Regions from separate parts of the Homo sapiens genome. Here region 1 is linked to region 2. The links come from fine-mapping of genetic effects on gene expression. A gene starts in region 2. The other region holds a variant in brackets. All regions are shown on one strand. Distances are between the middles of the regions.

Region 1 (4,401 bases), 100 kb before region 2:
AACTTGATTGAACCTTTCCATAATGTATGCATAAAGCAAAACATCATATTGTACTCCATAAATATAGTTATTGTCAATTTAAAAAATTATTAAAACACCTGACATACACTCTGTGATGGATATAGGATGTTGATTAAGCCTAATGGACTTAAGAGTCCTTTCCATGTCAAGCTTCTTGTGACATATGCTAGGATTTGTCCTCCTAGACAAAAACCAATAAAAAACAAAAAATAAAAAATACCTCCTCACCCAAGATACAGAAGTTTTTAGGTAAAACTCTACAGGGTGGTGGCAGCCATCTAATGTCCACTGCTGGGCTTCCCCAGAGGAAGCAGCACAGTGCTCTTGGTGAGGACAATGATGCAGAGAGTGAGGTGGGGTCTGCTGGCTGGGGAGGCCCACCCTCCAGGGCTGCACCCCCAGCCCTGCCGAGCAGGCTTCTGACTCAGGCTCGGTCTTTGCAGGCACACACTACCACTAAATTCACTCACTGATAAAAATATTCATTTTGTGCCCATTATATACCAGAAGAGCTTATAGCTCCAGGGACAGAGCAGTGAGCAGGACATGGTCCCCGAGACATTGGGGAGACAGCAAATAGAGGTACAGATGAGTTCCCCCAAATCTACCACATGCTGTTCCCTGCAGACAGCCGCCCAGACACAGTATTGTGTGTTATACCTGGAGGGGCCATAACCCAGTTGGGCCTGGAAAAGTTCTGCAGATAAAGCAGCACCTCCAGGGAGACTTGCAGGACATTTAGGAAGAAATGAAGTGGCAAAAGACACTGTCATTTCCATCTATTTACTCCATGGCCAAAATCAAGGTATAGAGAAAGGTCATCATTAAATCCTACATATTTTCTGCTATTGCTTCCAACTGGTGAAAGAAGTTCATGTATTGTACTTTGGGGATGTACTAAGCGTAAATATCTGGGCAGCTTTTAATGCTGAGGCCTAATGCAATAACGAGTGAGTCATAACAGTTTACAAATACAGAGCTAAGACCACAATTTCCCAAATGTCCTTATTCATACGGAAAAATAAATATTTGTTTACTTTTTTGGGGTTCAAGAATTAGAGACATGACTTGAGAATAGAGAAATCTGGTGACAAATTTTTTTTTCTGGCACTTGATGTGATCATCAGTGGCATGAACATATTAATATGTAAAGTGTCATTGTATAGAATCACGCTTTCATTCTCATGATGTGATTACCAACTGGGTTCCAATCATTAGGTCTTGGAGAGTTGACTCAAGAACAATTGAGCAACCTCCAAATCCTGCTTCATTTCTCAGCTGCCGCCTAAAGGTTCACATTCTGTTTCTCCAGTGTGTTGTAGGGACTTGAATCTATTGACATGCAAAATCTCCAACAGAGACTAATGCTTTAAAACTCCACATCTTATAGGCAATGGGGTCTGAGAGTGCATATTCTCAATGTGCTCTTTGTGGAGAGGAGAGAGGGGAGAGGATGAGGGCCCAGAAAGGAGTAAGCAGGGTACAGACAGGTGGGTTGGGGATTCGGAAAGTGGATTTTATTCTCTTAAAGTGTGTCCTTGCATCAGCCAGGATTGGGGCACTGAGATGGCAGCCTGGACTTGGATAACACCACATACACGCTTACTCCTTCACTGCCCGTAGTTTGGGCTTCACATCAAACCTCACTCTCCTCACTGCACAGACAGCCTTTGACTCATGATGGTTTGATTTACAATTTTTCAACTTCACAATGGCACGAAACCATCGCAACTTTGACATAATGCACAGTATTCAATACGTCACATGAGATAGTCAAGCAAAGCAGGCTTTGTGTGAGATGATTTTGCCCAACTGTAGGCTATTGTAAGTGTTCTGAGCATGTTTAAAGTAAGCTAGATTATGAGATGGTGGTTAGATTAGATGTATTAAATGCATTTTTGACTCACAGTGTTTTCCACTTATGATGGGTTTATCAGATTTTAACCTCACTGTAAGTCAAGGGGTATCTGTATTCTAAATGCAACATGGAAATAGCAAGAAGATGACAGTTAAGTTTACAAAAAAGAATTGAATGTCCCCAGTCTCTCACACTTTTAAGTATTACAAAGTACTAAAGTTCTCAATAAAGAAAGCCATTAATATCCAAATATTCATGACAAGTAACATTAGTGTGGCGTGATTTGGCCCCTGTCCCAATGAATACACAAAGTATATACGTAAGCAATTCATAAGCAAGAAAAACACAAATGTCATTAACAAACATTTAAGAAAATACCTGACCTCATTTCACATTAAAGCAACGAGGTATGTATCAAATTTTAGCTATAACGTCAGAAAAGTTGAGACAAAGAGGAGAGAGAGCTTGCCTACTGTTGGAAACCCCTGCACAGTCTGTATGTCTGAAGACTGCACCCTTTTTGGAAAGAAATATGGCAATGCATATTAAAAGCCTGAAAAACAGTCATACATTTTTATCCATTAATTCTACTCCTGGGAATCTATCCTAAATAAATAACCTAAAATTCAGAAAAGGCATTAGGCAAAAATATTTCCATTACAGC[A/G]TGGTTTATCATAATGAAAACTTCGAAACAACTTTCCTACCCAACATCAAAGAGATGGTTAATCCAAATAGTACAATCCAGGGGTGATATTCAAAATAATTCCTAGCTGTATTTCATAAAGCATGGCATGTCCAGTTGGAACACATGCCAGCCCATCAGCATGGACACCAGCCTGACAGCCACACAGATGTGCACTGTGAGAGTACCAGACTTGTGCAACCACACTTTGAATGTGCTTCAGAAAGCCGTGGAAACGTTTATGAGGGTTTCCTAGAAAACGGGGAAACACTTATTATAAGTAAATATATATTTGAAAAGAGAAAAAGACTGATGAAACTATAATAAAGTGTTAACCATGGTCATCTCTGAATCTTGGGATAATAGATTTTTTCTTCTTTATGGTTGATTTCATGTTTATAATCAGAAAAAATTTGAAATTGTTTCAGCAGCATAGTTCTAAATGTTCAAATGTCTTCACTTATCTGCCCCAAGACTTCCATGGGATAGGGATACCATCTTTCAGCCTAACAGGAGTGCATGTTAATTGATTTTTCATGCCCATCCGTAGAACAGTCTGGAAAACATTATCCACAGTTAAAGTAATTAAGAGAGCGATTGCACTTTTGTGCTTTATCAGATAATATTTCGCCCACTGTTTTGGTAACATCTAGAGATTTTAAAATTATATTTAGGAGGTAAATCTAACTTTCATAAATTAAAATTTTTATGGAAATAAACATGGATTCACATGCAGTTGTAACAAATAATAGGGACAGAGCCCATGTACTTTTTATTCATTTTACCCCAATGTTAGCTTCTTTCAAAACCATAGTACAATATTACAACAAGGATGCTAATATTGAGACAATCCACCTGTCTTATGCAGATTTCCCCAGGTTTACTTGTACTCTGTGTGTGTGTGTGTATGCGTATTAATTCTATACAGCTTCATCACATCTATATTTGTACACCCATGACCATAGTCAAGACACAGAGCTGCTCCACACCACAGGGATCCCCTGGGCTGACTTGCTTCTGGCTCCCAAATTGCAAGCCATGTAACCTATCATTAGCCAACTTGTGTACTCACCTCTGCAGTGCATAATTCACATTATGCATTCTCCTATTACAGTCAGAGCTTGTGAAATCTCTGATATCTAACATCCTAAAACACGGAAAGTATTATTAAAGAAAAAAATCAGTGGAAGTACAGGGATGTAACTTTTTCTCCATGGCTGTAACCACACACAGTGGAAAAGATGCTGAATCTACAAGGATGTTCCTGCATCTACCAGGTGGTTAGACTTGAAAAGGGTGCTTTGGTCAGGATACTCTCCTTATCAAAGAAACTCAAGGGGTTTTTATTTTAGTGTCCATTTTAACAAGCCTAGTTTTACAAAATTATTTAAGTAGAGTAAATAGCCCCAGCAGTGCTCTAAAGAGTTCAGTTTGGTGTCTGTTTATTCACACCAGAGTGTCGGTACTCCCTAATATGCAAGTAGCCTTCTCTAGAAAGAAAGATAAACTAAATCCTCAAGCTTCCCCTACCACTTTGGACCAAGTTTCCTACCACTTTGGACCAGGAGTGTGCTGGCCATAGCCATTGGTGATGGGCACGGAAGTCAGCAGTTGGGCCACAAATTATCACACAAAACTTCCTGAGCAAGCAACAGGTGCACAACCCCGGAACTGAAAGACGAAACCGAAGTGCAAACCATCCTTACAAGTCAGTAAGCTGGGGGCCAGACCAGACACGGGACTGGCCAGAGAGGCTCATGTGTCATTAGAAGGTGACCTTCATTATCCAAAGACATTAGCCCTGTCCTTTCTGGAGTTTCACAATTAGTGATAACTCCAA
Region 2 (4,401 bases):
TTCTTGGGAGCAATTAAAATGTGGAAGGATACATCCTGCTTCAACCCGCCGAGTTTGTCTTTCCAAATCACATGGGCAATTGATTACACCATCAACAAACCCCATGTAACCCTCCAAGGAACGAGGTGCGTCCCTTGCAGTAGAAAACCGATAACCCAAGACATGAAGGTTCGAATGGATGATTGGCTTAGCTGGAATTGTGCTCCTCTGGAGGAGACTTTTTAAATGTATTCCTAGTTGCAAGTCCAGAAGCAAGGGAAGTGAGGCCCTCAGGGTTCTATCAGAGCCTGGGAAGGGGAGGAGAGCAGAGATGCTAAAGCAGTAGCAGAAGATCCACAGACCCCTGGAAGGACATGGAAGCTCGCTTTGAGCTGCTCCTTAGTTCATGGGGGTCTCTCCAGCATAAAGAGCTTCCTTCCTAAAATGGGAAGAGGGCTGTTTGCACAGAGAGAAGCGTAGCCTTAATACTGTACTTTGTCCATCCCTCCAGAAAGCCCAAGGGAGGGGGCAGATGGTTCATCTGCAAGTGATCCCAGGCCTAAAGCAAAGAGATGGATGGTCGGAGCCTCCGCGCGGTTTTTCCTGGCTACCTCCATACCACCATGTCACCTCTCTGTAAAGGCGATATAGGGAGCACCATCTGGGTGTTGTAGCTCATCTGGCTGTTGTAAGGAGTAAATGAGATGGGACGTGCCACACACATGATATGTGCCCGGCTCACAGGAGGCACCTTAGTAAGTGGTCACCATCAGATATACTAGTGAACCTGAGAGTGGCCCTTACCAACGTGGAAGGCTGGGGTGTTTGTAATCATCACTCAAGGCAAAGCAGAAAGAAATCTAGGCTATTTTTTAAGACTCATTGTGTTTGGTCACAGGCAAAAATAGAATCCATCCTCATGCAACCATCCTTTAAATAGTATTTCAACAGAGGGTTAAAGTGTTGGTTTGGGGTGTGAGAGTGATACCTTATTCATTCAGAAGTCCCTCAAAGAAGAGGATGGAGAAACAGACACGATTCCATGAAATGATCACTTTCCCCAGGCAATCACACCAAGGAAGGTCAAAGAACCTCCTCCCCGAAGGTTCACTGCTGGAGGTGGAGATCACAGCCAACTGACAATATAACTGCTGGCAGATATTTTTAGGTGGAAAGTCCCACCGTTTCCCGTACCTCACTGTGACCCTCATTACGGCATTAGGATGGGATTACCTTGCTCTCTTCTGAAATACTAGCTTATCCGTGGCACCAGCAACAAATACAAGCAGCTTGTCTGATGGAAAGGTCCTCTACTTAAGAACTAAACTTCCCCCAAATCACAAGCCCCTTTGCTGAAACAATGAAAAATTTAGGTAAGCTCTGGATTGAACTATTTCCCTCCCTTTGAAATAACTGGATGTTTAGTCATAACAAATAAGAATGATTCTGGTATCTTGTGGTCACGACATAGCATTTTTATGTTTTTTTTTTTTTATTTTTCACTTTACATCTCACTACATGGACATGCTACCTTCAATTCAACCCCAGGTTACATCAAAACCTCTTGACCTTTCATTTAAAGACAAATAAAAGGCAGCTGCTGGGCTGTGAAATTGTGAATAACAAACGGAACCATTATTTGAAAGGTTTCAAATTCTGATGAACAGAAAGATTATTTTGGAAAATCTATAGCGGAGAGTAGTATAATTATAACTTAGATTTGCGTGGTGCTCAATCCAAACTCATCTCCAAACTGAACGTGGTTTTCTAACAATAACATTCCTCCAAAAAAGGGGGCAGCCTACAAACCAACATAAGCGTAAGATGCACTTCCTGTCCAGCTAAAAATAAACCTGCAGACATTTGAAAGCAGCATAGAATCCTTTCTAACAATAAAAACAAACTCACCCATGTCGTTGGGCCAAGGCTTTGACATTTTAAAAATCATTATGGTGAAAAATAAACGCAACCTATAACGTGAGCTATTGTTAGAAATCCTTGAGAAAAATGCCTCAAATAGAGAACTCGAACGTCCACTCGCTAAAAATGAAACCGTTTTACTTGGGCATTGTCAAAGGTCGAATGGTTTTCTCCAAAAATGATGTTGAAGTCCTAACCCCCAGGACCTCAGAATGTCACCTTATTTGGAAATAAGGTCCTTGCAGATGTAATTAATTAGAACGAGGTCACATTGGAATGGGGTGGGCCCCGCATCCAATAAAACCACTGTCCTTATAAAAAAGAGGCACGCCACGTGAAGACCGAGACACACAAGAAGAACACGGGGTGTGGCTGAAGGCGGAGGTTGTGACGACGCATGTACAAGCCTGCAGGAGCATCCGCGAGCACCGCTGGCCCCACCGGAAACCGGGAAGAGGCAGGACAGCTTCTACCCCGAGCCTCAGAGACAGTCTGGCCTTGACATCACCTTGATCGTAGAATTCCAGCCTCCAGAATGGTGAGACACAAATTCCTGTTATTTTCAGCCAGGCAGTTTGTGGCACTTCGTTTCAGCAGCCTAGGAAGTGAATATATTCACTTCCATATACGTGAAATTGACATCAGTGAGGATTTGCTCTCTAGGCAGTAGATGTGAACCGGCCTTCAACGATTTTTTTTTTTCTGGCTGCATGTTGGGCGCTCCCAGCTTAGGGGGTGGGTGTGCAGGGAGTGGGGAGGGAGGCGCTTCTGCTTCTGTGGCTCTCCCATGGTCTCTTCCCACAACATCTTCTGCATCTCTGTGGATCCGGCTGCCCCCAGCGCAGCAGCCCGGGTGGGGTGGGAATGTCCAGCACTGCGTCGCTGCCAGCCCTCTGGGCGTTCCAAGTTCCTGGCAGGATCCGGATGCAGTGTGGTTGACCTTAACTACCCAGGAGAGGGTGAGCTCTCCTACAGAAGACTTGGACATCTTCTCTGCCTTCTCATTTCTGTGTCCACAAAAAATCAGCACAATGGACACTGGATCCTGCTCTCCCTTCCTTCTCTTTCCCACCAACGCACACTTTGGCAGTCCTGGCACCAGCATGGGATCCACCCCACGCACACCCACATGCACCCCACACTCACCTCCAGGGAAGAAGCACATCAGTGAGAGGAATGGCTCTGTCCTCAACTCAGTAGGAGCCAGCACCCACCCCTCCCCTCTGTTGCCACTTCAAAAGGTTTTCTTTGTTCGCTTGTTTCTACTTACCATTAATGTTCTTCAGGCTGGATAAGCTTTAAGGTGTGTCCCTTGACATATTAGATCTATTTTACTCTGCCATTTTATAATTAAACAGGGTCTGACTGAAGTTACCTTTGGCCCATGTATGTCTAATCCTACCAAGTCCTAGCCATGAAACAGGTGATATGTGTATAAATGAAAACAGTGGGTTAAGAGGATGCTTCCAGAAGTATTAAGGCACCCACGCACACACACAGACAAATACGCTCCACTGAAGATCATTTAGAACTGTGGGTACAGGGAAGCACTTAGAGAACTGTATTACAAGAAGATTCAGTGGAAAATCTACCACCAATCCTAATTCATTTCCCTACAGAACCTTAGTGTGCAGTTCGTAGCCCACCTTCAGCACCTGTATGGGATTGGGGCCACTGAGTATTCTGTGTACACATTCGTCATGGTCTTTTAAAATCACCCTCATTGTTGCTGGCTTCTGACTGCCTCTCAGCTGTGCATTAGTCAGGATGCTGCAGCGAACAGCTGACATTAAGGACCTTAGGATGAAGGGACATTTTACCAAGATAGGGGCAGAGTTTAGGAAAAGCAGTAATGTTTAGTCCACTAAACCAGGGGTCACCAGCCTCAGGGCTGCAGAGAGGGGGAAGAAGTCTTATCCATGGCCCTGGAGGGCAGCCCCATAGTGTTTTGTTTTGTTTTGTTTTGTTTTGTTTTGTTTTGTTTTGTTTGAGGTGGAGTTTCAGTCTTGTTGCCCAGGCTGGAGTGCAATGGCGTGATCTCGGCTCACAGCAACAACAAACGGCTTAGCTGGAATTGTGCTCCTCTGGAGGAGACTTTTTAAATGTATTCCTAGTTGCAAGTCCAGGAGCAAGGGAAGTGAGGCCCTCAGGGTTCTATCAGAGCCTGGGAAGGGGAGGAGAGCAGAGATGCTAAAAGAGTAGCAGAAGATCCGCAGACCCCTGGAAGGACATGGAAGCTCGCTTTGAGCTGCTCCTTGGTTCATGGGGGTCTCTCCAGCATAGACAACTCCCTTCCTAAAATGGGAAGAGGGCTGTTTGCACAGAGAGAAGCAGTAGCCTTAATACTGTACTTTGTCCATCCCTCCAGAAAGCCCAAGGGAGGGGGCAGATGGGAGGAGGCTCCACCTCCCGGGTTCAAGCGATTCTCCTGCTTCAGCCTCCCGAGTAGCTGGGATTACAGGCATGTGTCACCATACACGGCTAATTGTGTATTTTTAGTAG

Direction of the effects. Alleles are on the strand shown, and positions count from the first base shown. SD is a standard deviation of normalised expression in the study named.
As copies of A replace G in region 1, the expression in amygdala of the gene that starts at base 2,167 in region 2 goes down (small effect, 0.38 SD a copy in GTEx).

What was found. PIP is the estimated chance that this variant, and not a neighbour inherited with it, causes the effect.
Region 1: its variant is the best candidate, but not a certain one, in a credible set for the expression of LINC03082 in amygdala (GTEx, PIP 0.81).

What each region holds. Positions count from the first base shown.
Region 1 is chr13:110,026,322-110,030,722 of GRCh38, forward strand. It overlaps a transcript of LINC03082 not described here. Among named protein-coding and RNA genes, the nearest start is that of LINC00396, 25 kb to the right of the region's middle. The variant A/G (reference allele first, on the strand shown) is at 2,544.
Region 2 is chr13:110,126,970-110,131,370 of GRCh38, forward strand. LINC03082 (long intergenic non-protein coding RNA 3082) reads right to left here and starts at 2,167. Exons shown (of 3, transcript NR_187462.1): 1 at 1,888-2,167. RefSeq lists an enhancer at 1-745.